Linked DNA regions of Homo sapiens: all the other regions are linked to region 3. Evidence: fine-mapped expression QTL. A gene starts in region 3. Each other region holds a variant in brackets. All regions are shown on one strand. Distances are from middle to middle. Region 1 overlaps GRIN3A (glutamate ionotropic receptor NMDA type subunit 3A). Region 2 overlaps RNF20 (ring finger protein 20). Region 3 holds the start of GRIN3A (glutamate ionotropic receptor NMDA type subunit 3A). Region 4 overlaps GRIN3A (glutamate ionotropic receptor NMDA type subunit 3A). Region 5 has its middle 330 kb from the start of LINC00587.

What was found. PIP is the estimated chance that this variant, and not a neighbour inherited with it, causes the effect.
Region 1: its variant is the best candidate, but not a certain one, in a credible set for the expression of GRIN3A in monocytes after R848 (Quach 2016, PIP 0.85).
Region 2: its variant is the best candidate, but not a certain one, in a credible set for the expression of GRIN3A in spleen (GTEx, PIP 0.55).
Region 4: its variant is the best candidate, but not a certain one, in a credible set for the expression of GRIN3A in T cells (TOPMed, PIP 0.63).
Region 5: its variant is the best candidate, but not a certain one, in a credible set for the expression of GRIN3A in prostate (GTEx, PIP 0.59).

The regions. Positions count from the first base shown.
Region 1 is chr9:101,583,026-101,588,025 of GRCh38, reverse strand. All of the region lies in intron 6 of GRIN3A (glutamate ionotropic receptor NMDA type subunit 3A), which reads left to right. Among named protein-coding and RNA genes, the nearest start is that of PPP3R2, 9.4 kb to the left of the region's middle. RefSeq lists an enhancer at 1,256-1,305. The variant C/T (reference allele first, on the strand shown) is at 2,158.
Region 2 is chr9:101,560,681-101,567,189 of GRCh38, reverse strand. It overlaps RNF20 (ring finger protein 20), which reads right to left. Exons shown (of 20, transcript NM_019592.7): 17 at 6,264-6,389; 18 at 5,960-6,100; 19 at 5,179-5,280; 20 at 3,846-4,944. The coding sequence ends at 4,768. Among named protein-coding and RNA genes, the nearest start is that of RNF20, 30 kb to the right of the region's middle. The variant G/A (reference allele first, on the strand shown) is at 3,073.
Region 3 is chr9:101,736,228-101,742,696 of GRCh38, reverse strand. It overlaps GRIN3A (glutamate ionotropic receptor NMDA type subunit 3A), which reads left to right and starts at 4,050. Exons shown (of 9, transcript NM_133445.3): 1 at 4,050-5,416. The coding sequence starts at 4,718. RefSeq lists enhancers at 3,693-4,216, 4,217-4,741 and a silencer at 5,636-5,930.
Region 4 is chr9:101,574,310-101,579,309 of GRCh38, reverse strand. It overlaps GRIN3A (glutamate ionotropic receptor NMDA type subunit 3A), which reads left to right. Exons shown (of 9, transcript NM_133445.3): 7 at 1-114; 8 at 1,466-1,542. Among named protein-coding and RNA genes, the nearest start is that of PPP3R2, 18 kb to the left of the region's middle. The variant G/C (reference allele first, on the strand shown) is at 2,592.
Region 5 is chr9:102,190,114-102,196,622 of GRCh38, reverse strand. No RefSeq gene overlaps it. Among named protein-coding and RNA genes, the nearest start is that of LINC00587, 330 kb to the left of the region's middle. The variant G/A (reference allele first, on the strand shown) is at 2,983.

The DNA of each region.
Region 1 (5,000 bases), 150 kb after region 3:
GGCCATATGTATAGACACAGCAATGAATCTGCCAAGTTCTTTTGAGCAACTAACTATTCTTCTGGGCAAAATAATCAGGAGGCAATAAATAAATAAATAAATAAATAAAATAGATACCAGGTCTTCAAAATTAGAAATAGCATTTGCTTCTTCCTTGTCCTGCTTCCAAGCATCTATGAGTCATCCATATTTCAGAAGCACCACAGCCTTTTTCTTTTCCTTACCTCTCATTAAAATCATTATTTCTCCCCCTGCCACCAGCTCTCTTATTAAGGAAAAAAATTCTTGAACATCGCATTTGGCTGTGCAGATCCAGAGAGGAGATGATACAAAGCTTAGTGCATTAGGTCACTGAAAAATACAATTATTTTCCCAGGTTCTTGCAGTCATTTTGCTCTGGGGAAAAATATTTAATAGGGAATGTCAGAGTAAATGTAATTAAGTTACTTTTCAGACATGTGCTTTTTATTTTTTATTGAACTTACTATATACTAGGCTGCTGGAGACAGGCAAAAGCAACACAGCCTTACCCTGTCAGAGAAGACTTCCTAAAACAGGCTCCACCCGTTCATTTCTGAGATCTGCGTCAGGATACAGTCTATCTCAAAAGAAGTTATATTCACACCTCGGAGCTAGAGGACCTTAATCCTTTAAACAGTACATATATTGAATCAGATTATTTGGTTGCAAGCAACAGATTTTTTTTTTTTTTTTTTGAGATGGAGTCTCGCTCTGTTGCCCAGGCTGGATTGCAGTGGTGCAATTTCAGCTCACTGCAGCCTCTGCCTCCCGGATTCAAGCAATTCTCCTGCCTCAGCCTCCCGAGTAGCTGGAACTACAGGCACCTGCCACCATGCCTGACTAATTTTTGTATTTTTAGTAGAGACAGGGTTTCACCATGTTGATCAGGCTGGTCTCGAACTCCTGACCTCAGATGATCCACTTGTCTCGGCCTCCCAAAGTGTTAGGATTACAGGCGTGAGCCACTGCGCCCGGCTGCAACAGATTTTTAAACTTAAGCAAAACCTATCAAAAGAATAACGGGAAAGCTCAATGTTTTGAAGTAAGAAAGAGAGTGACAGATGAAGCCTCGAACCACAGCACTCCAAGGATGCTAGTGCAGGAACTAGGGGACTATGTCTTTGGGGCACTGACATTGGAAATGACTCATCTCCAAACACCTTTGATATCCAGTGTTTCTGTTTCAGATTCACATTGACTGGCCTTGAGTCTCATGCTTTGCCTGGTGAACAGGGAGCAGGGAGTCTGTGATTGGTAGATACACCAAAACCACATGAAGCAGGAAGAGGGCAGTTCCCCAAAGAAAGGATCCTAAGAAAACAAAATCAATACATTCCTCCTGAAATTTTTGCATTCAGTTTCCAGTGTTTTACTTCAGTAATTTAAAAAATTTTTTGTCCCAGTTTCAACAGTAGATCCCTAGATTGGTGAATATTAGCATGATCAGGTCAGGCTAGCAAAACTGGGCCTTGTTTCCTCTCCTTTTAATTGAGAATGTCCATCTCCACCCTTCTCTCTTAAACAACTGTTCTAGGAAGCTTCTGTGATATAATGAGACTGTTTGGGATCGGGGGTGGGGGAAATTATGCAAATTTATTTTATACAAAAAATCCTAGTTTTCATATGCTTTCATTCATTCATTTAAAAAATATTCACCGTGCTGGGCACTGTTCTAAACAAGAGTATGTATCGAGCAAAATGGACAAAAGTGCTGCCCTCCTGTAGCTTACATTCTACTTTGCTGGGGAAATAGGCAATAAACAAATAAACACATACTATGTCAAGAGAGAAATAAAGCAAAGTAAGAGAGATAGATTGTATCTGAAAGAGGATGGAAGGGGGAAAAGAATTTGCCTTTTTAAGCACAGTGATTAGGGTAAACTTCATGGATAGGTGACATTTGAGAAGAAACCTAAAGAAAGTGAGGGAAGGAGCAATATTGATTCCTGGCAGAAGAGTTTACAGGCACGAACAGAAAATGAAAATACCCTCAAGTGGCAAGTTGCTCAATAGATTTAAGGAACAATAAGGAAGCCCAAATGGCTGAGCAAAGTCAACCAGCGAGAGAGAAGAAGGATATGAGGAAATAGATCTTGTGAGGCCTCATAGCCCATTGCAAGGACTCTGAATTTACTC[C/T]GCAAGAGACAGAAAACCATGACCAGGCATTGAGCACAGGAGTGACATGACAGTCATTCTCACTGCTGTGAAGAAGACAGAAGGGGTTAGGGAAAACAACTAGGAGGCTGTCTCAATAATCTAGGTGAGGTGAGAGGGGATGGTGGCTTGGATCAGGGTGGTTGGTGGAGGTGGTGGGATGTTGAATTCTGGATATACTTTGAAGGTCGGTTCCACCATATTTGCAGATACACAGGGTAATGGGATGCTAGAGAAAGACAGGAATCAAAGGTGGTTCTAAGGTTTTTTTCCCTGTGTCATGGCAAGGATGGAGGTTCATTGTGATGAGAAAGACTGTGTAAGCAGCAGGTTTCAGAGGGAAAATTAGGAGTTTGCTTTTAATGTGTTATCTTTGAAATGTCCGTTCATTACCTAAGTAAAGAGGCAGAGTAGGAAGTTAGGACAGAAAAGCCCCCAACTCTTGGGAGTCATTGACATCTGGGTGGTATTTAAAGCTGACTCTGAATGAGAACATGAGTGTAGCTGAAAAACTGAAAGCATGCCTATGTTTACAGTCAGAAAGATGAAGAAGAAAAGCAAAAGAGACTAAGGTACAACAAAGAGAAAGAAGTATCACAAAAACAAAGTTAAGAAACTATACCAAAGAAGATGGAGTAATCAATGGCGTCCAAGCTGCCGATACATGAATAAGGTGAAAACTGACCGTTAGATTTGGCAATATGGAGGCCATTTTTTACTTTTACAGGAATTGTTTGACAGGTGATGGGAGGGGACAAAAGTCTGATTGAAGAGGGTCTAAGGGAGAATGGGAGAAAAGGAATTAGAAGCAATGAGTATAGACAACACTCTAGAAAACCAGAGAAATCAGGTGGTTGCTATGTGCTGGGAGGTGTGGAATGGGCACAAGGAAGGATTAGCTGCATAGATCTTGATTAGTAACATCAAAAACAAATGATGAGTGAAACACTTTATCTGCATTTCTTGCTGGAGACTTGAGAACTAGTCACTACTCGAGCCAGCTGTCAGATGTTTCAAGTGACGACATCTGAACAAAATACAAAGCAGGGTTTGGGCAACAACAAAGTTTATAATCTTATCCTATACATGTTACTGATCTGGTCAGAGACCACACCTGTGATAGTACAAACATCTCCTTTTATCTGAATTTGGTCCATTCCTAGAAATGTGTTGGCTAGTAAATTTATAGATGGTGGAAGCCCTTTCCATTATTTCAAATGGAAAAAATAATAAAGTATTCCTATTTCATCCAAAAATCTCAAGCAGTTTCCCTAAATTCGCTAAAACACTCTTAGACACCTGTAGACATTTAATATCTAATGCACAATGCATGGATATGTGACAATCTACCAAGAATTTCTGCATAACATAAAGCATTTAAAACATTAGTTGTATAGTGCATAATTTGTTGGTATTCCTCCATGCAACATGCAGAGTACAGTATCAGATACAAACTATGTTTTTTCTTCACAGTGTAGTAAATATATACTAATGTAAATTAACAATAAAATGCTAAAGAAACATAATGAATATAAATAACCTTTAGAAAAATGAAATACATGAGCAAGGCAATTTTTTGAATGATTACTTACTAGTTAAAGAGTTGCCTAAGTGAGATGGGGTGGGCTAGAGTAAGTTTGTGAAGGACCAACTGGAGCAATAAATGCCTGAGATTTGTCCCTGGCTCAATCCTGGGACTAGCCGGGTGCAGTGGCTCACACCTGCATTCCCAACAATTTGGGAGGCTGAGGCGGGCAGATTACCTAAGGTGGAGAGTTCAAGCCTGGCTAATATGGTGAAACCCTGTCTCTACTAAAAATACAAAAATTAGCTGGGTGTGGTAACACATGCCTGTAATCCCAGCTACTTGGGAGGCTGAGGCATGAGAATTGCTTGAACCCGGGAGGCAGAGGTTGCAGTGAGTCAAGACTGTGCCATTGCACTCTAGTATGAGCCTCAGAGTGAGACTCTGTCTCAAAAAATCCAATCAAATCAATCAATCCTGTGACAGCCTTCTCTCCCTGGCCCTTGAGTCTCTGGAAGTGTGTGGCTATGAGCTAGCAAATGAAGCTGCAGCTGAAGCAATGGGATAAAGGGGGAAAAAACAACAACCTCAAAACATATGTTTGTTTGCATTCTTTTTGCATTCATTTACATGGCCCTTGACAGCATGAGACTGGACTTCTGCTTGCATTTCTGAATGTGCTACCACTCAAGTCACTTGCAGCTGCAATTATCATTTTGTCTGCATCACCTGAGTGTATTTTAAATATTTGATATTGAATATTCATAACTCCTTCTTTTCTTCCTCTGACCAATAATGAGTATCAAGTTGAGCAGTTTTTTACTAGAAAGAAAGTTTTCACTTGATAATATGGGGAAGATGCACATATGCACAGCACATTTAAACAATGTGATCCTAGGGGAGGAACCGCTGAATTACAAAGGCAGCTGTATGTCTTGTCACTCAGACTCAGACACAATTGAAACATTTTCTCTGGTGTTCACAGGCAGATGATAGTGGATTTTCCATTCCAATGTGAGTTTTAAATAAAAAATTGTGATAGTTGTTATAGCGAATAGTGAAGATTCAACTAGAAAAGGATACCTATAAATGGCGATTGTTTGAGAAGCATTGCAGGCTTTGGCATCAGACAGTCCTGGATCCGCAGCCTGGATCCCGACTTAGTAGCTTGCATGATCTTGGGTAAGTAAGGTTATTAACCCCTATAAACCTCTGCTTTCTCAAATGTGAAATAAGGATAATAACACTTAACTTACAGGGTAATTATAAGATCATAATACAGGTATATTGTATCTGGCAT
Region 2 (6,509 bases), 180 kb after region 3:
AAAAGTTAGCATTTGCTGAGCATTTACTAGGTGCCAGGCGCTGTGCTGAATGTCTCCTGTATGATGATTCATTTCATCCTCCATATAACCCTATGATGTAGTTATTATTTTATAGATGAAGAAACTGAAGCATAGAGACATGAAGTAACTTGCTAATAAGTAGCAGCACCATACGCAGGCAAGTCGGACTTCATGAGAAATATATTTAACACAATGCCTGGAATCACAATAAGCACTCAGCAAATGCATATGATTGGGAGAGCAGGAAGAAATCTAAGATCCCTTGATTCAATTCTACTCTACAACAAGGTGCTAAAGGAACTCAGTGAATTCAGAAACAAAATGTAGTTCTAATCCAGGGCCTGGCAAAGAGTCTAGTTAGATTAGAATGATCAAGGATAAGTATAGTAGGTATATGTAAGTCTTTAGAAGACTTCAAAATGACTCAGAAAGTATTTTCACTTATTGTCTACCTGATGACATGTACTCTATTAGTACAGGTCTCCGATTGGGATAAAAGAACAATGGAGTTCTCATAGTAGCATTTCAATCCTGTGGCTAACCTGAGTGGCCCTGGAACCTATTTCCTCACTTCTAAAATAAGGACATGGTCTGAGTTCCCTTTCAGCTCTAATATCCTCAGAGCATATTATTATTATATTAATGTGAACATAGCTTCCCTCAAAAAAAAAAAAGGTTAACTTACAATAAATGAAGCTTTTATGCAGGTTTCCGTAGCGTAGTGGTTATCATGTGTGCCTTGCAGTAAGTGAAGTCTCAGCTACATGAGACTCAGCAGTCTCATGAGCTGCCACTACAGAAGTGTTAGTTTTAGAATTCATAATAATTCCTTTTATTGCCACAAAATAAATTAAAACTGTAGTCATATATTTTTGGATAATACAAATTTGAAGGGTTACTTCGATATATGGGGAAAGATTGTTTCTACTTAGGGGGTGAAAAAAAGAAAGAGTAATAAGGTTTGAATCACACATTGGCCCAGTAAAGCAGACTTCGGAAGATCTGGCAGCAGAACCATGAAGCAGAATTAATTTAATCATGAAAAACTTTACTGACTACTATGTGCCTCTGCTAGATATTAGGGATTAGACTGTTAAGACATTGTCCTTTTCATGTCCTTTAGTAATTGTGAAGTAGGCTATAAGTAAGACCTTAATAGCTAACATTTGGAACAGACCAAACATGGGCAGGAATCCCAGAAGGTAAAGCTCATTCTTTCTGATAGGACCACTTTTAAGTATTTCCAAACTTTAAGATCTAGAAAATTTGTAAGTATTTCTATGTCATGGGTTTCCTATTGTGCAAACCCAATCCAACCTACACATAATCCACCATTTTTCTACTAATCTCAGTGTATCTGTCTTAACATCAGAAAAGCAGACTTCTGCAATAATGACTAATCAAAACTTTTCTGCAGATCCACTGGGACATGGGTTTATCTGGCAGTCCTCAGATAAATCTTCAAAGAACAATATGTAACGGCATTCCACATCCTAGCAAATGACAATGGGAATAAAGATGAGAGTAGCATATGCTTCCGGCAAGTGTAAGCATCACCATCCTAGTAGGTTTAGAAGACTGATGATTATTTATTGTCTAGAATCTTCACAAAATCAAATCACAGTCATCACTCTAGTGGCATGTACATTAAACTATGTGCATCAAATTCCGGCCCTTGAAGAACAAGGAAGCCTACGGATCTGGACAGAGAAAAAGGAAAAGGAATTGCAATGGAAATTCATGTAAGAAAACAATTGCAGAAACAGCTCAATACCTTTGAAAAAGATCCCTATAGTAAGTAAGAAGGTAAGATCCAAGCCATGTAGTTATGCATGCCTCAGAGCACACCTGACTTTGGTCAAAGTCACTAAGAAATTTCCAAGGTAACAATGAAAGAAAGAAAAAAGAGAGAGAGAGACCATCCCTACAAAATCTGAAATGGTTGTTGTTTGTTTTTGAGACAGGGTCTCACTGTGTCACCCAGGCTGGAGTCCATGGCATAATCACAGCTCACAGCAGCCTTAACCTCCGGTGCTCAAGCTATCCTCCCGCTGCAGTCTCCCAAGTAGCTGGGACTACAGGTGTGCACCACCACAGCCAGCTAATTTTCGAAATTTTTTGTAGAGACGGGGTCTCCCTATGTTGCCTGGGCTGGTCTCAAACTCCTGGGCTCAAGCAATCCTCCTGTCTCAGCCTCCCAAACTGCTGGGATTATAGGCGTGAGCCACTGCACCCAGCCTGAAGTGTTTTTAAGAAATGAGAAGCCTCTAGGACTTCTATAATAATCTTTGAAATTGGCATTTATAAGCATTACCTTAAAGAAATTACCCTTTAAAGTTCATATGGATCAAGGGCTGTGATTGCTAACTAGGATCCAAAAAAGCTATGAATAATGTACATACAATACAAATAAAATTTGGTATGCAGTTTGGGAGTATTCCTAAAGCGCATTCATTGACCTCTTCTGTAGTGAGAGAAGCCAACTGCCAAAAAATCACCATCATTTTTGGTTGTTATCTGAAAATGACTGTGAGAGCTCAACTTGTGTTGCCAGGACCTCAAGCCAGTTGGGATCAGGGGCTCCCTGCTCATCTCAACTAGAGGAACTTCCTCTAAATCCAACTTCCCATGGGGCTAGTGGTTTCCTCCACAACATTCCACAGGCCCTATGGTCCCCTGGTGCTGGGCAGCTGGCTTTCTCAGCCAATTGTCACAAACAGCCAACAGCCAAGCCCAAACCACCTGTTGACCAAGCAGTATATCTGCACCCAACCAACAAAGTTATGCTCAAGCTTACCCTATAAGAAGAGCAAGAAGCAAGGGGAAAGTGTCCTATTACTAAATGAAAACTCACTGTGTCCAGAAGCAGGAGCTAATCCTGTCATGATGGTTCTGTGGGGGTGGGGGTGTTTGCTGAGCAGGGGGATCAAGGGACCCATGACCTCTCTTGATGACCTAGTAAGATTCTTCAATTAGACTCATTGCTTAATTCATACCACATGACTTTGTGGAATTCAGTGCAAATCCTGCTGATTATAGCTGGTGACCACA[G/A]AAAGACACAGAATTTGCTCTTACCTGTCTTCTAGGACAGGTGGTGATCAAGAAGGATCCATTTTACACAACCCCTTGCCAGAGATTTATGAAACCTCTGGTTTGCTGGTTATTATAAAACATAATGCAGCTGGGCATGGTGGCTCACACCTGTAATCAAAACACTTTGGGAGGCCAAGGAAGGTGGATCACCTGAAGTCAGGAGTTTGAGACCAGCCTGGCCAACATGGTAAAACCCCATCTCTGCTAAAAATACAAAAATTAGCTGGACATGGTGGTGAGCACCTGTAATCCCAGCTATTCGGGAGGCTGAGGCAGGAGAATTGCTTGGACCCAGGAGGCGGAGGTGGCAGTAAGCCAAGATTGTGCCACTGCACTCCAGCCTGGGCGACAAGAGCAAAACTCCATCTCAAAAAAAAAAAAAAAAAACCCACCACATAATGCAAGAACTCTCACCCTAAAGCTAGAGGCAGCAATATGCTCCCCCAAAAAACAAATTATAGTCTCTTACCCCACCTAATGAACTATGAAAGATAACTGAGTAGTCAAATAAATTAATCTTTTAGGTATAATTTCTCCATAGAATAGACTCAATAAAAGAATTGGGAGAAAAGTGCTTCAATTAAGCAAAGATCTAAATACTCTAAACAAGGCCAACCTCTTAACCTAAGCTGATTATTTCCATGCAAGAAAATTTAATTCTATAACAGCAGATATAAAATCAACTTGTAATAATAAAGACAAAAGTTTCAAAGAAAAACCATAAACACAAATGCAAACTGAATCCTGCTTTAATTCAAGCTTGTGGAGAACAAAGTCCTACAGAAACATTCCACAGAATTTTCTGGAAAAGAGGGATCACAACAACCCTGTAAAAAGGAGACTGAGAGTAATTCATAGCTCACCAAGTTCTCTCCGTATCAAATTTCCAGAATACCCACAAGATTTCTTCACCAGCTCAGTCCTGACTCAACCTCTTCAATCTTTATTTCATTAGAAGACAAAGGGTCATATTATTTAAAATTATTCTAGTCTCAAGAAATTTAAAGACTTGAAGTAGTAGAGCATTCAAAACTTAAATAACTTTAACAAGAAAGCCAGCTGATCTTAACAAGTTACTCTGCTAGTAAATGGGAAATAGACTGAATCATCCTAGACATAATTTCATTAGGGCTGCAAACCACCCAGGGGAGAGTAGCACAATTATACCATTTTGTAATCCACATTCACAAGAAGTTTGCTACACAAATGAAGAAAACTTTGTGCCCATAGACAACTTATTTTTTAAAATATCACTCCCCAAAAGTAGCCATGTTTCCACTTTTGTTCCCTTTTCCACATCAAAAATACCAACTTGATTTCTTCAGGAGGAATGGACAATCCAAGTTTATACAGTGGGCTGGAAAAAGAAAACACTGAAAAGTCTAAAAGCACAAAATAAACAAAGCTGGGAGGGAAGACAGTAAGAGTTATTTGTTTCTAATTCATTCTGAAACCCAAGGCTTGTATTTACCAGTCCTTTCTGCTAAAGTCATCCAGCTACTGAAGAGGAGAGCCTGGAAGTAAAGTCTGGAGGAAAGGTAGTTGACTGATAAACTGTCCTACAGGTGACAGTCAAGGAGAGAAGAGGTAGAGGTTTGGTGGTTAATGAATAAGTTCCTGACTAGCCAGCTCCTCTTCTTCTCTTGACTTAGATCAACCAATGTAGATGCGATGAAAATCATTGGCACCAAAAGCAGCATTACACTTGGGACATTTGCGCTGGCGGGTGTCATAGCGTGTCTTCACACACTCAAAGCAGAAGACATGAAAACACTTAGTAAGAACAGCATCCTTTTTACGCATGTTACAGCACGGACAGGTCAAGCGTGCCTAAAAAGAAAAGATGTCAGAGTTTGAACAACCATGAAAGTTTATGATCCAAATGGCTCTCATATACTACACAACCAAGAAGAAAACCCACAAGGCACTAAAAAAAGAGCATCATTTCCCCCCAACCTCCAAAATAAACCATTCTCTGGTTACTATCATGCAAATTATTCTCCCAGTCTATTAGGCCACTTAAAGCTTTGACAAAAAACTAATCACTAAGGCATTTTTTCTAACCTTGTAATCCTTAATCTCTTCCATCAGAATCTCATCACACTTGGGTACATTGTCTGGTTTCTTTGTGGTCTCCAGCTTCCTGCGAAGTCTAGAGATGTCCTCCTGTGGCAGGATAGCATACCCATTAGACACACTTACCCAAATCTATCATTTTTGAGAAAAATAATAGACTTGAGTTTTCTGTTGTGAAAAGAGGGGACTTTCTATCCTTTTATGGTCAATTATCTTGTAGAAATGTAGAGAACTGCAAATGGCAGGATATTTTCTTTTGTTTCAGAAGAGGCAACCATAATTATATCCCCAAATTAGAATTGCATCTATTACCAATTCAGTCCTGTGAAAACACATCTAAGAGTTTAGAGGACAGTCTATTTTGTTTTATAGTAATTAGTTTTAAGCTGAAGGTAGAACGGTTTAAAATAATTCAGAGACTTACGGATAAAGACAGAAAGACATCATGAGAAACAGCTAGCATGACAAAAATAGAGACATTATACAAGAACTTGAAAATCCTCTACTGCTGCTATGCTGTTACTTCTTTAACAATTTACTAATTCATTAATTTAACAAATATTTATTTTGTGCCTACTAGGTGCAAGGCACCATAAAAGAGTCTGAGGATATGGCAGTGAAGAAAACAGACTTACTCTCTTCCCTCAACAAACTTCCTCAAGTCTAGTAGGAAATGACATACATTGGACTAATGATTCTTTCATGATATGGGTCACTTCCGACCTCAGAAAACACCTAAAAGGTGACAAGAAAAGACAACTGCTTTTACCTGGGCTCGTTTGAAATTGAACATGTCCTTTTCTTTGGTAACACTGTTCTCCACGATCTCATCCTGAAAATCATGTAGCTTCTTCTGAGCCAACTCCAGTTGTGCTTTGAGGTCATCTGCAAGCTGGGCTGCCTCCATTGCCTATGTAGGATGTACAAATAAGTGACACCATTGTATCACCTATTATTGCCAGTGAGGCAAAATGTTAGCCCAAGTTGAAGGAATAAAGCGAACTTACAATCTCAACAGTGTTATACTTATTTGTTCCACTGAGACTAACCATCATTAGATTAATCAATCATACCTTGCGTTTATTCATCTCTAAGGCTTGGGTCCTAAGACCCAGCTCTTTCTCCCCTGTGCCAATGTTGCTCTGTAACAGATGCTCCTTCTCTTCCAGTTTCCTTACTACCTGTAGCTGGGCATCAACCTTTGAACAGAAAATCAGATTTTAACACAAATGAAAAGATTAAAAAAAGAAAAAAAACTATTCTGTTAATCTATAAGCCCACAAAATACAGTATGTTAGAAATCTCAAACTATTACTGAT
Region 3 (6,469 bases):
ACAGGATATTAATTTTACACCAATCAGGATAAAATAATTTATACTAATCTGTGACTCACTGATAGTCCCAAAATCATGAGAGTTATTTGCATTTTTAAAAGAGAATAATTGCTGCCAAAATTAATGCCTAATTAGTAGAATGTAGAACAGTGTTACAAAGTATTGAGTGAATATAGGCTTATTTTTAATTGAGGGAATGAGAAAAAATTATTAGGCTTTGGACAGATGAGCCCTCAGGGTCTGCTCCCCTAAACTGACCTAATTTTTTTCTAGATTCATTCCCTTCTAAAATTCTGCTACCATAGATTCTCTAAGAGCTCCATATATTTTTTGTTTGTTTGCTTTTATCCAGGAAGATTCACATGACAACAAGGTCCTTGGCAATAGAAACAAAGGAGCCAATGTGGAAGACAGCATAATTTGAGACTCTGGATATGCACTAGCTAGGGGAGAACACATTTTTCATCTGAATATTGATAAAAATCTACATAATTACTATTGCAAAAAAAAAAAAAGGGGGAGACCCAGAATTGGGGACATGCCATTTAATATTATGGCCATTTACAAAAACAAAGATAGATGTGAATGCAACTTGTAATAAGTCAAGGTATAGGAAAAAACACAAGATAGTTTTCCAGACTCACCAGAAGCCTCCCATTCCCGTGGAACTTGAAAAGATTCACAGGAGGCTGCATACTGTTGCATCTATACAGACAACTGTTAAGATCTGTCGCCACAACCACAGTTCAGAGGAGGAATCTTCAGCTGTAAGAGGTTAAATGTCATATCCATAGGCGAAACAATACTGAAAAGAGAATCTAACTCCTAATTCCCACAGCATCCTTTACTGTAGCCTTTCCTTGGCTACCACCATAGCAATATATCTCAGCTTTTAGTCCATCCATTGCTGGTACCAGAAAACACAGATGTGAACAAAAGCACATGTTAAATTGCGAGCATTTGGATTTGTTCTGGTTTGACTCTCCAACATGGGTTCTTAGATCAGTAGTTCTCATTCTGAGTCAGATAATAATTTTTAAAAAGCTTCATCTCTGAGTAAGCCAATTTTGAAATTTGACTGATTTTAGCTACCAACCACACAGCTGGGAAGAACTTAAAATATTGAAGCCACAATGCTACTCACTATCTAATGATTTTGTGCAGATAACTCAACTTTTCTCAAATTCAATGTCCTTTTCTTTAGAATGGGGATGATCACACAAACCTATTGAGGTTGATTTCTATGATTTGACAGTAGTGTTATTTTTCATGTGGCTTATTGCAATAGCCTCATCTCCTTTTCTCATCTTCTGGCGTCCACTCTTAACCACTGTTCATCTATCAGTAACAAAACAACTGTAGCGATCCCGTTAAAGTATTAATTCTATCACTCTTCTGCCCTCCACTCTTAACCACTGTTCATCTATCAGTAACAAAACAACTGTAGCGATCCCGTTAAAGTATTAATTCTATCACTCTTCTGCCCAATGTCCCTGCCTTCATGCCTTCTCATCTCATTCAGAGTAGATGCCAAAGTTCATTTGCTTACATTGTCTGCCACCTCTTCATTGCCTCTCTGACCTGACCTGCCACCACTTTCACCCTGGATCATTTTGCTCCGGCCACTCCAGACCCCTCATTATTCTTTAAACCTTCCAGAAACACTCGGGGCCTTGGCATGTAGTTTCCCCTGCTTGGGAATTCTTGCCTAGAGTATTCACATGAATCACTCCCTTACCTCCCTTTACATCTTTATTCAAAAGCTGTCTTCTCCGAGAGGTCTTCCCTGGCTTTCTCACCTAAAATTACAACCCAACCTCTTCCTAATACTTCCTCTACACTGCTTTCTTTTTCCACTTAGCACAAACTAACATACCCTACATTTATTTACTTATTTGTATATTTTATTGTCTCTTTCACACTAGAATATAAGCTCTATGTTAGCATTTTGTTCACTTATTGACTATGTGATGTTGTGGAAAGGAGAAAACTCAACTTTTCTAGAGTTTATTCATCTGTTTCCAGGATGGTCCTACAACAATGATTGACACATACTAGGAGCTTAATAATTGGTTGTTGAATTTAAGTGAACTTTGAAAATGATGACCCTTGACACATGAAAAAGGTGGACAAGAAGGAGAAAGGGAAAAGGAAAAAGAAGATTTGGGGAAAGGAGAGAGAACAATTTTGTCAGATATGCTCAGACCACCATGATATGGACAAAGAAAACCAAGCAGCAAAAGGAAAACAGGAAGGACACCAGTGAATTATAATGGGAAAGCCCGGAAAGAAACAAAAGGAAGCCCAAGAAGGGAGAGCCATTCTTCATTGTTCACTCAGTATTCACCAGGTTTAAGTAGAGTTTTATCACGACCTGGTGCAGTATTATCCTCAGAAACTTGGGAAGGTCTTCTGTGTAAGAGCAGTTCAGTTATTCCCTCAAGGCAGTCATGAACTTGTGAAAAACCTAATGCATATAGAGTGATTCTAGGATGCTATTAATGATCAGATCAAACTATTCTCCATCATCATGTTTTTCTTGAGAACCTGATCTGAACATAAGTGTAATGCCAAGGACTAAAAGTACAAGGACTAAGCATGGTCATAACCTAGAAAGTTATACATTATATTCTTCAAAACACACACTCGAGTACAGACAAATATACCTCCTTACTACACAATTAGTAGATACCCAATCTTCCTGCAATGCAAGGACCTCAGACTTCTACACTTTTATTATTCAGATCTCAATCAGTGGAATCCTGTGGATCAAGGGGGAATTTCCAGCACACTAGAGGCAGCTTTTCTCCATTCATGGGATGTTCTCTCAGGCTTCAGGAGGGTTTCTTTCCCTCCTCATTCAGCCCACTACTATGATTTTCACTTTTTTTCTCATGGGAGACTTTTCTTCTCTAGCAACCCAGTCTTGCAAAAACGATGCCGAATGTCTGGTAAATTTGTTCTGAGATACCTTTAAAGATCTGGGCTGGGGAAAACAGCATTCACTTTGCAAGCTTCTTGGGATTTTTACTTAACTAGAGTCTCTTCTTCCCAGGATTTAAAACATGATGGAAACTTTAGCTCATGAATCAAAACAACCCTCCAGAGCTAAAAGCCAGCTGTATTTGCATAACAATTTAGCAGATCCAAACAGCAGGGCAAGGTCGGGTGAAATAAGTTGCCAAGGTCATGGTCATGAAGTAGTATTAGACTCAGAAAGGCTGATCCCCAGTGCTTGCTCCACCCCATGGATCTCTCCTACCCTCCTTCTAAACGATACTGTGGGATAAAATAAAATTAATCTACTGTATATGTGCAAACCACAGGCCTGCCCTTAACTCTTTCCTTACCTTCTAGTTTCAGATTATTCAAATCATGGAGGAAAAGATTAGATCACAACACGTTGACTTCACTGTATTACCATACAAATGAAATAACTTAGTACAAACTGTGATCTGGGGACTCTTGATCTAAACTGGGAACTGCTGTTGACTGCATTTTAAACTCTAAAAGTATTTTGAAACTCTTTAATTTCTTGAACTGAAAAAATTGCTTTGAATTCACTTTGTTTTAATTCTGAGAACCTAAAAACAGGGATTCTTTAAAAAAAAAATGCAAAGGCTCACATGCCAGAAAGAAAGAAGCTGAGGAGATAAAAATGTGTAAATAATTCTTACTTTAATACCCTTAGCTAGAAAAACCTTAAAAGCGACACATCCAGAAGCTCGTTAAGTCACAGCCTCTTTGAACCTATTTCAGTGAACCACCGAATTTCAGATCCCTCAGGTGCGACTCTGAATTCAGAATTCTCACCGGCTCATAGTCCTATTTTCCTTCTTAGGTTTTAGGGAATTTTGCAAACTATGACGCCCAGCCTTTGAGGGGAGAGGACTTTCCAGGGGCGCGGGATGTGCCACTCGGGAATCTCACCAACAGTGGGCGTTTAGCGCAGCCAAGCGACAGGCAGGCGCCAGGGCTCAGCAACAGGGAGGCGCCGGCTGAGGCGGGGAGAACTTTGGCGCTCGGAGCAGAGCCACCCTTTGCTGGCCAGTCGCGTTGCTCCTCCGAGGAAGCAAGCGGCGGTGGCGACTCGGTGGAAAAATAACGAAAGAAAGGCAGAGAGGAAGTAGCGAGAGAAGAGAGAAAATGAAGTCGGCGCTGGGGGAGCCTGCAGGAGGGTGGCCAACAGTGGAGGAAGGTGGATTTGGCTTCTTTTCCGCACCCCGGGCGTGAAAGCCCTCTCCAACGCGACCCCAGGAAATAAGTGGGTCTCGCCTGGGCAGAAAAGGAAAAGAATCCAGGCGAGAGCGCGTCGCTCCTCTGTCACTGCTGCCCCCGAGGAACTCCGGCTGCTTCTCATCCCGGCCGCCTCGCGGGGCCGGACGCAGTGCCCGAGGCGCCCTGCAGATGGGGCGGGCAGGGAACGGGCGCTCCAGCTGCGGGTGACAGGCGCCGGCCCGCCCGCCTGCCTGCTCAGCGCAGTGACCGGGCGGGCAGAGGATGCCAGGCGGAGGGACCTGGGAGCGGGATCTGAGACTGCCGGAGGCGCGCTACGCTCCAACTTGCATGGCCTAGAGACCGCTCCAGCTCCTGGGACCGCTTCACCGAGTGGAGTGAAGCTGCGCGCGGGACCTGGAGGCGGAGACCTCAGGCAGCGGCTGCAGAGGGGCGAGCCGGGCGCAGGAGGGGGCGCGCTTTCTCCCTGCGGGTCTCAGTAATGAGGAGACTGAGTTTGTGGTGGCTGCTGAGCAGGGTCTGTCTGCTGTTGCCGCCGCCCTGCGCACTGGTGCTGGCCGGGGTGCCCAGCTCCTCCTCGCACCCGCAGCCCTGCCAGATCCTCAAGCGCATCGGGCACGCGGTGAGGGTGGGCGCGGTGCACTTGCAGCCCTGGACCACCGCCCCCCGCGCGGCCAGCCGCGCTCCGGACGACAGCCGAGCAGGAGCCCAGAGGGATGAGCCGGAGCCAGGGACTAGGCGGTCCCCGGCGCCCTCGCCGGGCGCACGCTGGTTGGGGAGCACCCTGCATGGCCGGGGGCCGCCGGGCTCCCGTAAGCCCGGGGAGGGCGCCAGGGCGGAGGCCCTGTGGCCACGGGACGCCCTCCTATTTGCCGTGGACAACCTGAACCGCGTGGAAGGGCTGCTACCCTACAACCTGTCTTTGGAAGTAGTGATGGCCATCGAGGCAGGCCTGGGCGATCTGCCACTTTTGCCCTTCTCCTCCCCTAGTTCGCCATGGAGCAGTGACCCTTTCTCCTTCCTGCAAAGTGTGTGCCATACCGTGGTGGTGCAAGGGGTGTCGGCGCTGCTCGCCTTCCCCCAGAGCCAGGGCGAAATGATGGAGCTCGACTTGGTCAGCTTAGTCCTGCACATTCCAGTGATCAGCATCGTGCGCCACGAGTTTCCACGGGAGAGTCAGGTGAGAGGAGCCTGGTGCGTGGAGTGGAGATGGGCGCTGCTGGGGGCCGGGGCCATTGCATGAGGGGAGAGAAAACGGCTTGGTAAAGTCTGAGGGGAGTTGTTACTTTATAACTTTGATATTGCTTAACGATTGGGCCATGTTCGTAGGTGGTAGGTAGAAGGAGCTTAGTAGAAGTAGAATAAAATATTTAAAGCGCGGATGGAAATAAAACGCGCAGTGAGGTCGCGGCTGGAAGGAAAGAAGTGGGGAGAATATGAGAGAAAATCATATTTTGACCGGCTGGGAGAAATCTAGTAGATGCCCGACGGGAAGTAGAAGTCGAGGTTCAGGACCGTGGAGAGCGGTGAAGGTTCTGAAGAACTACAAGAGCAGGGTATGGGGGTGGGGTATCCCTGACTCCTGGCTAGGTGTCACACTCCCAAGAGCAACTCTGACAGCATGTGTCGGAAAAGCAGCATCTGCTCTCTCTGACTTCTTCAGAAGGTGTGCCTGAGCCTTAGGCAAAGGTGTAAGGAAGAAAGCACATCGCTCTGAATTCCTCTGGGTAAATAGAAAATCTGCACCTAGTACAGAAGCCATAGGTAGAGAAGAGTGGTCAATTAGTCTCGGATATTGGAAAGCATTAGAAATATATAAAAGTGTAAAGATGGACGGGGAGATTTATTTGGGGATTGTTTCTTTGTCCCTACTTTCCTTCTATGTAATGTGGACTCAGAGGCTGGTATTCAGTTGCTGTGTTCAGCCCATTTCTCTCCCCATCATCTAAGAATTAAAAAAAAAAAGGAATTAAATGATTTAGTTTCTTATTGATTAAAAAAGCTAAACATATTTTCAATGAAAGAGCTATTTGTGAACTTAACGTTGACAAGTAATAATGAGGAGATGAATCTTTAAGAACAAGACAGAGTCCTTATTTAGTAATGAGTTTTCTGCCTTTTATATGTTACTTTTATCATAATCTCAAGCTGTGTTAAGCCTTGCACAAAGTATCTATGAAGCAAATAGGTAATTGGCATGGGCCCATTTTAACGACTGAGAAACTGAGAAAAG
Region 4 (5,000 bases), 160 kb after region 3:
ATTGGATTTGGTCTGTCCATTTTGACCACCATTGGTGAGCACATAGTATACAGGCTGCTGCTACCACGAATCAAAAACAAATCCAAGCTGCAATACTGGCTCCACACCAGCCAGGTGAGTGCCACAGGTGTCTTGCTCCAATATTCTTAAACTGTACAATTCCTAGGGATGGGAGGATCCAGAGCCCTATGTCAGACTACTAAGTTATGTTACCACAATAACGAGGGTGGGGTAGGCACTCTCATTAGAGCAGAAGGAATTCTCTCTATCCCATTAATTCACTTTTCCCTTAAATTAAGGCATCCCACAGTGCTCCTTCCTTTCCTATAACCCTCCACTGTTGTTCATAATAGAAGAAATAGAACTTTTTTAACCAGGTTTCACTTAATAGTGACAGTCTGAAAAGATGGTGTGAAAGATTTATTTCCTAGGTTCTTTTCTTGCCAAAATTGAAACCTATTACGTGAGTTTAAAGTCCCTGGTCCCCTTTAAGTGACCCCACTTGCCCCTGTTCTCTCTGCTTTTTCCCTGGTCCAGAGGGGTTTGAGACCCATTGGGGCCAAGGCCAAGCTTCACAAGGCCGCAGTTCTCTCCTGTTACCTAGACATCAACGCACTGATTTACAGGGAGAACTGAAACTGTCAAGCAGACTGGTGACTCAAGCACACTCGTTTGCATATCTCTCCCTGAATGAAATTGGCATGGAGACCCAAAATATAGTCAGAAGGCTTCATAATGATGGAAGAACTCTAACAAAGGGAGTGGTTTCACTTGACCACAGCAAGGCTGGATGAGCCATCCTGGCCTCTCCTGTGGTGAGACCACCTCCTGCCCTCCAGTGTACCATGGATTACCTCCCAGCAGGGAGGCTGTCACTTCTGCATTTACCCTATTCATGTATTCATATACCCTCATACTAAACTCCTCACTTTGGTAACACTTTTTTTTTTTCTAGATAGGTTACTATCATTGGTTTGGTTACAGTTGAACCCTGTTCTTCCTACTTTTATCCTGGGAAGTATTTGGTCTTCTAGGAGAACTCCACAGATCTTCCTTATTGTATGCTAATATGATTAACTTAATTCTCAAGAGTCCTCCTTCCCTTCTTTGTTTTGGTTGTCAATTAATTATATACTTTTTACTCATCTTTAGCAATTATGGAAGGCCTTTTGCTACACATTAGTTATGATTGTGCCTCCTTATATCACATACCGTTTTATAATACTGAGCTTTCCATCAGAACACTTTTTTGTTTCTCCAGGTGGAATAATAACCTCTAATTAGAATTTTTGTTCTGTTGAGATTTGAGGCTGAATGTTGATCTATTTTTAGGCATTTCTGGAATTTGTTTAAAGAGGCCAAGGTTTGTAACGACTACATATACTGTTACATCTCAAGTGGTTCTTTGTTCCCTGACCTATGTGTTTCTCATAATTTCTACCTGTGAATCTGTTTTCTCCATCAGAGATTACACAGAGCAATAAATACATCATTTATAGAGGAAAAGCAGCAGCATTTCAAGACCAAACGTGTGGAAAAGAGGTAAGAAGGGGCCAATGGCAACTGTCTTTATATTTGTAAAATAATCTTTAGAGATCTAACTGTATAATTATTCAGATCAAATCAGGGCAATTTATCAAAAGAATCAGTATAAATAGAGGGAAATAAAACATAAAATAAAAAATGTATATGGACACTAAAATGCAGTGTACACAATATACTGTCATGGTTAGAAGTGTAGTCATGGACTCTAGGATCAACCCTCTGGATCCAAATCCTGTCTCCAAGACTTATGATATGTGTTACTTTGTGTAAGTCACTTATTTAATCTCTCTGCACCTCAAGTTCCTCATTTGTAAAGTAGAGATAAAAACAGTACCTATTTCCTAGAGTTGTTGTAAAGATTAAATAAGATCATACATGTACATCTCTGAATGAAAGGAAATGCCTAATAAATATTAGCTATTATTATGTACAAAATACATGTAAGAATTAATGAATACCGCAGGCAATTAATTCCATGTTTTACTGTCTTTTTGGCATATTTCCACTCCCTACTCCTTTCTAGCATTCCTAGGAACAGAGTATTGGAAATATGAAACAGACATGTCATGCCTAATTCATTTCCTGGCACTTTTCTACAAACTCCCTAGCAAAGAGCATCTTATTAATAGGAAATAACAAACATTAAATGCATTAATGACATCTGAAAATCGAAGCTCTTCACTCTCACCACACCAGGCTGTGGATGACTGTTCCCTATTTCATGGTGACTAAAGATGTCAGAAGCACTTGGGTCTGGTTCCTGGCTAGTCTCTGCTGCCTGCTGCCTAAGGCAACCCTACTGATTCTTTTGTACACCCAGAGGCCTCAGATGAGGGCACACCTCTCATCATAACAGAAGAAAAAGGGATGGAAAACAGGATTCTTTTTGTTTGTATCTTTTCTGGGACTGCTGCAGTCCCCTTCTATGCAGTCTCCATCTAGCTTGTTGGAATCATTTCCTTTATCTCTTGAAGTATCTCTTTCCAGTCAATGAGCACTCTCCCCTCCCCTCTCAGTCTGTGGTATTCCTGCATCATATTGCAAGT[G/C]TGTTAGTGACAAGCTGTATACTAGTCCAGTCACAGCTGTTCCATGACATGTTACATCTATTTTTTCTATTTTTAACATAAATTTTTAATAACAGTAACACAAGAAGACATAGCAGCAAATGTATCATCTTACAATGAAAAAATATTTGTTTTCCAGCTATAATAGAAACAGGAAGCCCAATGATCCCATCTCCAACTGTGATATGATTCATATTCACATCTTTCTCACATAAATTGAAAACCATTTGTGTCTTTTGATGCAACTTACCCAGTTTTCTTGGCAGATTCCCTTCCTGAACCCCTTATTTTGAGGATCTAAGGAGAACAGGTGTTCATGGTTTAGCTTGGGCTCACATTTCCTGTGCCTACCTCTATACAACCCAACATTAGCAACCTGTCAAACACAATGAGTGTTTGGCGTACCATAGCCGTCATGTCTCTTTGGAATAGTCCAGTGGAGTATTGAACCTCAGTGTTACATAATTGCTCCAGGGAAGCCTATTTTACCCATTTTTAGTGTTAAATACAGCTCACTCACTGGTCATGTAACACTCTAAGACTGACGAAGGCTTGAATCAAAGCAAAGCCTAAATGTTACTGAGGCTAGGAGTATAACACCAGCCTTGGGTTATTTTTTCCAAGTAGACACTGAGTCTTACACTCAGCATTTGTCACCTTGCACTCATAGGTACCCACATCAAATATCAGATGCCTGGTGATACTAGCAACTAGAATTTGGCACAAAGTCCAGCATTTGTTTATTCTTCTATATTATATTACCAGATAGATATACAAAGCTCTGGAGAAGACCAGTCCAGCTATCTTTACTTACCTTATCACTGTGGCTGTCTAGACAGTTGAAGAAAATGTGTAGATGCTCTACTCTCAGGTTTTCCCTGCTATGAACCATTGTAGGGCATTAGAATGCTCTCCCTCTCTTCTCTTGGAAGTATATCTATGCAAATGCTCATGCATGCTACAACTTGACATCCCTCCTCTGTGCCCCATATTTACTGAACAAATAAAAGAGCAAATAGATAAATGAATGAATTATTAACATGGGTTTGAGGAAATGCTTGGAGAAATTTTGGGCCATGATATGGAAGTAGGTATTGTCCCTTTCTCATTTAATGCAAAGAAAATAAGGTACATATTGCAGGAGATGATTTATATATAGCCCTGGGTTTATTCAACATGTGATTTCACATAAGGTTTTGGTCTATCTTTCATCTCACTGGGTTCCCAATCAATACATGTCACCCCTGTTTTCCCTTTCCTCTCACCCCAAGACACACAAAAATTACAAACTACATAACAGCACAACCAAGATTACTTTAAGATTATTCAAATTCAATAGGAAAAGATTTGAAGAAAAAAATTAAAGGGAATTATAAAGCTAGAAGAAAAATTACATCTCCTCTCTGACTCAGGTCTAAAGCCAATGGAGCTATAAGTGGGTTCATTACAGAACTTTTACCCAGCCCAGGATACAAGAAAACTGAGCTCTGGTACCCTCTGCTCATTTATATAAAACTTAGACTATGAGGCATGTTAAAGAACCACAGGGTGGTTTGGAGTGTGTGTTTCAATGGCTTGGGTCATGTATAAGTTGGTCTTTGCTATGTGATAAATCATCCCAATACTTAATGTTTTAAACAACAGCAAGTTGCTTACTAATTCATGGATCAACTGTGCAGTTTGCTGATCTGAGCCAGACTTGGCTGAATTTGGCTGGGTTTGCTCATATGTCTGTAGCCAACTTTGGGGGATGGGGAAAGCAGCTAAGGGCTGTCTGGTCTATGATGGCCTCAGCTAGTCAACTGGGAAGCCTGAGGATTCTCTCCATATGGTCTACCATCATGCAGCAGGCCATTCTGGACTTGTTCACATTGCAGCAGCAGGGTTCCAAGAGAGTGGAAATGTGCAAGACTTCTTAAAAGTTTAGGCTTGGAACTGCCACTCTGATATGTCTGCCACTTTCTGTTGCCCAAAACAAGTTGTGAGAACACTCCTAACTGAAGCGGGGAGGAAAGCAGATTCAGCATAGGTACAAGCTGCAAAGTCACATTACAGAGGGCATAAATGAAAGGAGAAAAGAAGGTTTATGGCCACTTTTACATAAAGACTTTATTATTCTTCTCTTTCCCCTTCTCCTTCCAGATTGTCCCCTTCTCCTGGCAAGTAAGAGTCCAGGAAAAAAGTCAATTCAGTTACATGAATGGGAACAAAAACACAATGGCTTGGTAGGGTGTTTCTATTTAGTTTTGTCCTGTGGTAGATTGCAAAAGTTGTCATAACCCTCCTACTCCTCCTCCTGCTTCTTCTCCTATGGTGGAAAAAATCAGCAGCTATGCTGCTTAGGGCTCTAATCTATTCTTGTAGTGAGAAACTCTCCTTATCTCATAAGTA
Region 5 (6,509 bases), 450 kb before region 3:
AAAGTTTACATAAATAAAACAATGAATGAAAACGAAATGAAATGAAAACAAAACATCAAGTATTTTTTTCCATAACACTGATATGGGCCTTATGTGAAAAATCAACTATAGTGTTATGTTGGGTTTCATCTCCCAAAGAAGTGGGAGTATTCCCAGGTATCTAAGGAATGAGGAAAGACCCAGCCACTCCCAGAATAGAGATGCATCTCTCCATATTTTTATATGTTTTAGTTTATCTCTTTTAGTCTTACTTAATCACTCTACATTGTAAATATATACCAAAACATCATATTGCATCTAATAACTGTATCTATTATGTCAGTTAACATAAAATTTTTAAAAATATTAATAAATATTTGTTGATTGAAGAAAAGAACAATTAACCTATCACATTAACAAGCTAAAATAGAAAAATTTTAATATCTTACTAATATATGAAGAAAAAGCATTTGGCAAAATCCAAAACCAACTTGTGACAAAGCTGCTCAGTAAACTAGGAAGAGAGGACAACATTTTAAACTTGATAATGAATATCTCTAACAAACCTACTTGGGTTAGATTGGAAATTTGCAGAAGAGACCTCTGCCATCTCTTGGTCATGCAGTACAGTGGTTTAGATAGAAGTTGGAACTGTTCTCAGAACTCTGGCAGCAACAGTAGTTATAAGGTAACTGTAGAATTTGCTTTTCATTTGGGATGGGATGTGGGAATAGAGTGAGATATGGATACTGATTATTTCTGTGGGGTATCAGAGTTACACGTGAATTTGTGAATGAGAAGATTTAAGGAAGGAGATATAAATATGAATCACAGACCTTAGTCTAAAGAGTTCCATTTGAAGAGAGATTCCCATACAAATGTTCTCTGAACTAAAGAGGCTGCATTTTCAGAAAATTTGGCAGAATGGTAATAGCCTCAGAACTTTATACAACTTGGCGTTTGGTAGAATTTGTAACTCCTCTTTAAGATCACTTATAGATTATTCAATCATAGATTATTCTCATTTGAAGGTAAGTTGAAGATTAGTTTGTATTGCCCAATTTAAAGTGAGGAAACAGCCAAGAGAAGTTAAAAGACAGCCAAAGTCACAGATCTCTTTACATTCTTTCGAATAATGTGTCCTTTTAGTGACTGAGATGTTTCTATTATGAAATCTGATTTTGATGTATCAAATATTTTATTTTATAGATATCAAAGTATAACATAATTTAGTCTATTAATTAACATAATATATGTGTGTTTAAATAAAATACAAATATGACAATCAAGTAGCAAGTATGACTTCTGGACTAAGACTACTCTTATATCAATGCCTTCTCTTCAATATGTACTCCCATCTCCCTTTCTCGTTGCCTCATACTTCTATGCAACAAAAAATCAGCCCTTCCTTTATCATTTTCAGTGTTTTCAACTTGAGAGTTTTATGAGCATTTTGGTTATTTGTGTATTTTTTGTGCTACTGATGCTAAAAAGCTTCTCATGTTGTTATATATGTCCTGATCACCATGTATTTTGTCTCTGAGAGTTTTGCTTGATAATTTAACTATAATGGAACATGAGCACAAGTGGTATAATGAATGCGGACAGGGCAGACTGACAAAGTAATGAGTAAAACATTTATTTTCCAAAAACAAGCAGTACAATTTTGGTAAATAAGTATGCCGAATCCCAGTCTTTGGAACACACACTCCACAAACACACTTTACATCAAATACAAATATACTTACACACACTTTTAAATAAATGCAGTTGCAGTCTAAAACTAACTGTACAAAGTAGCATTACCTTCAGGATGTATTAATTGGCATATAATATACAGAAAAAATGGTATAGCAAACCCACTGTAATTTGCATAAATTAGACTACATCTACCATAATCACTTCTGTGAATAAAATTTTTGATTACCAGGATAATTAAAAGAAGTGGGATAAGTTCCTTTCATCCTAAAATGAAACAAAACAAGGTAACAACTAAACGGAGGATTTAGTAGCTCTTTCCACAGATTCGAAGAAATATCAAAGAAGAGATTAGACTTACCTATTAGGGTGGAAAATCTAGAAGCTGAACTAATAAGTACAAGTTACTGTCATGGCAACACTGAATTTTCTTACACGTTGTTTAGCCACAGAGTGAGATTTTTTGTAAAATAATAAATTCTTTGTGAATGAGAGTGTACAACGGGGATGGTGTTTTTTTGCTGCAAATGTCATTTAAAAGGATATCTGTAATTGGAGGAAGATTATTTGTAGGGCAATCCCTTATAACTCTAGGCTTTTGTGGTAGACACTTATATTCGAGATTCTACTATATGCAAAATCTTTGTATGCATACAGTAATATATTTAAAATTACTAAGCCTCATTGCATTTCATTAATAAATGGATTCGTTTTTGCTGACACATTGAAGATTACGAATATAATGTTTGAGAGGCCTGTATCTTCACAAATTTTGTTAACTATCCAAAGAGTATGCATTAGCTGGTATTTCATTTTTTCAAAAATTTTCATTGTGGTAAAAGATATAACATAAAATTTAGCATTTAACCATATTAAGTGTACAGTTTTGTGTTCTGTGTATAAAAGTTTGTGCATATTTTGGAACACGCTTTATGCATTTCAGTATTGAGTGATATATCCAGAACAGATTAAAAGTTACATGGAATCTGAAAAAAAAAATCCCCAATTTTTTTTGTATTTATGGATTATATTTTACATTAGAACACAGGAAAATACTACATGTTAAAGTTTTAAAGCAGCTTCAAGAGTTACCTAATTTATTACAGAAATGGAACTTAAAGTTAGGTAGAACTATTTTTGTTCCAAAATATAAGAAATATTTAGAGAAACTCTAAATCTTTTAAAGTAAATTACTGACATGGTCCCTATATTCAGGAAAATTACAAACTAAGAAGAAAGTGTATGTAGAGATCAATATAGGTAAGAACGAAAGCAGAAGGCTCACAAATATATATGATCTAACTC[G/A]TTTCATTTCAAAGCACATCCTAAATGCAATTATTTTTAATTCACCATATTTATCAACAGAACAAACACACTAATGTGTGTTGTTTATCACCAGAAAACAAATAGTTTTATCATTAAAACTACTGAGGTAGTAACACAGCGGTTAACCTATCTTGTGTTTACATAACAGAACTATTCCTTTATACATTTTCACATCAGATTATCATAGCAATTCTATGAAAGGTAATATTAATCCATCTGTTGAGATGAGAAAACTCATAACTAAGGAGATTATAAATTAACTTATCCAGCTATAAAAAGTTAGCACCTGGATTCAAATCAATTCAAGAGTGTTTACTATCTTGCAAGCTGATGAACACTGTATATGCTCTCTTTCCCATATTCCAGTTAGGGTCACTATGCATTTTGGTTTGCCTATGACAATCTCTTTAACATCTGTCATTCCTGAGTAATTATAAATAGAGCCACCTTTCACTTCCAAGATGTTCTGCTTTAGATGATAAATTATGTGGTCATTTAATTATACTCCATATTGCTGGAATCAAGCTATTTCTACTTCAAAGTTTGAAACAGTATGTAGATGTGTATGTGTGTGTGTGTGTGTGTGTGTGCTGCATTTGTGTATGTGTGTCTGTGAGTGTGTAGTCTGCTAAGTTCAGGTAAGGGATTGTAACATGACAAGTCATTTACAGATGTGATGTTGTATTCCTCATTTTCAAGAAATCTAATTAATAAAACATAAAATAGAAAGTATGTAATTATATGGTGACTCTAGATTGCAAGTATAATTGAATTACAAGAAAAATTTAGTCATTTGACTATAAAAGATGCCCTTAATGGAATTTATAAATATTCTTTCACAAAAGGTAGGTTAACGTTCATATGCCAATCAAGAGCATTTTACATTCACTAATATGAGGCCTACTGAAGATTGCTCATTCAAAAAATAATAAAGATTTTTCTCCTTAATGTGATACTCTAATGTCAGGTTACTTCATATAGAATGTTTTTTCTTTTTGATTTTATGGATAGAAGGATAAAAATATAAATTGAAAATAATTTAATTTACTGTATAGAATCAACTTTATAAAATGCCCCACTCTCAAATATTTTAACAAAAATATTAAATAAAAATATACAAAACTTAGTTTATACATGTGCTTAACATATTTCTATAATATTCAAAATTTTACTGGTCTATTATATACATAATTTATAATACACATATGTATTTTACATAGCATTTTATATGCTGTTTATATAACATATAATGAAGAAACTAACATTTATTGAGAAATTATTAAATGCAAGACACTCTTTTAAGCACATTGCATTTATTATATTATCTAATCCTCATAATGATCCTATGGTTTTGAGGTACTGCTAAATTTATTATCTAAGATGATGAGGAAAATGAATCTTTCTCCAATATTATACCATTGTTAAGTATTAGGAACAGAAATCAAATATGAGCAATTTGTCCACATTGAACTGCCTTCATAACCACACATGAAAAACTAGAATTCACATACATAACTTTTAAACTAATATTAACTTCTAATTTATTCATAATATTCTAGAGAAAAAATATTTTTTCGTCATTCTTTCTGGCCTGTTGCTGCTTCCATATCATCCTCTGATCCATTACCATAATCCACTCTGGTCTGTATTGTGAGCTAATACTCTGGTCGGTATTGTGCTAACAGTCTGGTCTGTGTTGTGTGTTAATACTCATGAATATAATCACCATTTCCATTTAGGACTGCTACACTAATTGAAGACTAATTTTAGTTTAGATAGTTCATTTATCTGTGCAATTTACTCAGAGTTTGTGTAAATTTCATCATCAATATTTATTTGCCCTTGTCCTTTGCTTTGCTAATATTTTATAATCACATATCCATGCAAATATTAGGCTTTAGGCAGTTTGGGACAGTTAAAGATGTCTATTCTGCAAATATTCTTATTGCACCTTATTGGAGAAAGTTATGTCTCCCTTCTATGTGGGAAAAATGTAGAGGAGATATGGTTTATGGACTTTCTTGCTGGAATGCTGTCATATGTTGAGAACTATCTTTAAGAATATCTTGCTCCATTGCCCATAAGTAAATTATCTACCATGACTTTATACAACATGCTATTAAACATTTTTGTGGTTACTGTTAGCCCAGGCCTTTGTAACTTAGACACAGTTTCAGAATTTGTGTGTGTGTGTGTGTGTGTGTGTGTGTTATTTAAAAGCAGTTATGACACCTACTTAATTATTTATAACAGTGAGAATCCTTTTGAAATAGTAAATGTTTCCCAGAATCGTATGATTGCTTAGGTCTTGGTTTTATGCATGATGAGAAGATATTGGATATAACTAAATTTCTTCCAATTTTCTGACCAAGTAACTAAATATACATATTTTCCAGTTCAAGCATTTAAGATAATACAATTTAATTCTGCATGTAATAAAAATGCTATTTGTGCTAACTGCTGTTAACATTTAAAAATATCTACATAATTTTAACGACTGTCTAGCTAAGATTTCATTGGGCATTAGGATTTCCAGATTTGTAATTTTTGGTTCTTAACTGTTGTGTCACTCCTATGCAACCTTGCCTATATTTTCCCAAATGGGTTCTCTATTGTTAATTAACACTGAATATATCATTACATCAGACAAACCTGTGGGGGAATGTGGCATTTACTCTGATAACTTATGCTGGGATCCTTTAACAGCTGGAGGTTGTTTTGGCCATCTCTGATTTTCTACTAACTTACATCACCAAATCATTGACATAACAAAGGAACATTACAATTTTGGCTTTTGACAACTTTGTCAGTAACTTTTAAATACTAGTAAATCAGATGAAATCAAAGAAAACTCATTTGGATGAGGGTATCTGATATCAAATGTAACTCTGAAATTTGTCAAGGAGGGGAGTTGTTCTGTGACAGAAAAATTGAGGGAATAATTACTATTTTCACTAAGACAGCCATGTATATCATGCTCATACAAAATATATTCTAATTTTGAATCTTACTTGAAAACAAATTATTGAAATACTATCCATCATGACAAAGGAATACCATACTCGTCCTATTCCCTCACTAGTAGACACCAATAACACATCATCTTTAATCAAAGGATACTGACTTTCGATTTCAGCTTCAAAATGTAGGGTTTGGAAACTGTCACTCTTATTCTTAAGCAAGAAAAATGTAGATCTATAGATTCAATCCAAGTAAATCAAAATCATAGGAAGCAATTTTGTAAATATTAACAAACTAATTCAAAAGTTTATATGGAAAGATAAAAGAATAAGAATAGCCAACACAAACTAAAGGAGAACAAAGTTGGAGGACTTACACTGTTTCATTTGAAAACTTAGTATAAATATTGTCAATTGATTTTTAACAAAACCACCAAGGTGATAGAGTTGAGAAGGAATAACCTTTTTAATAATTGATGCTGGAAGAATTGGACATCCACATGTGAAAAGCAGACAAACATGGCACATGTATACATATGTAACAAA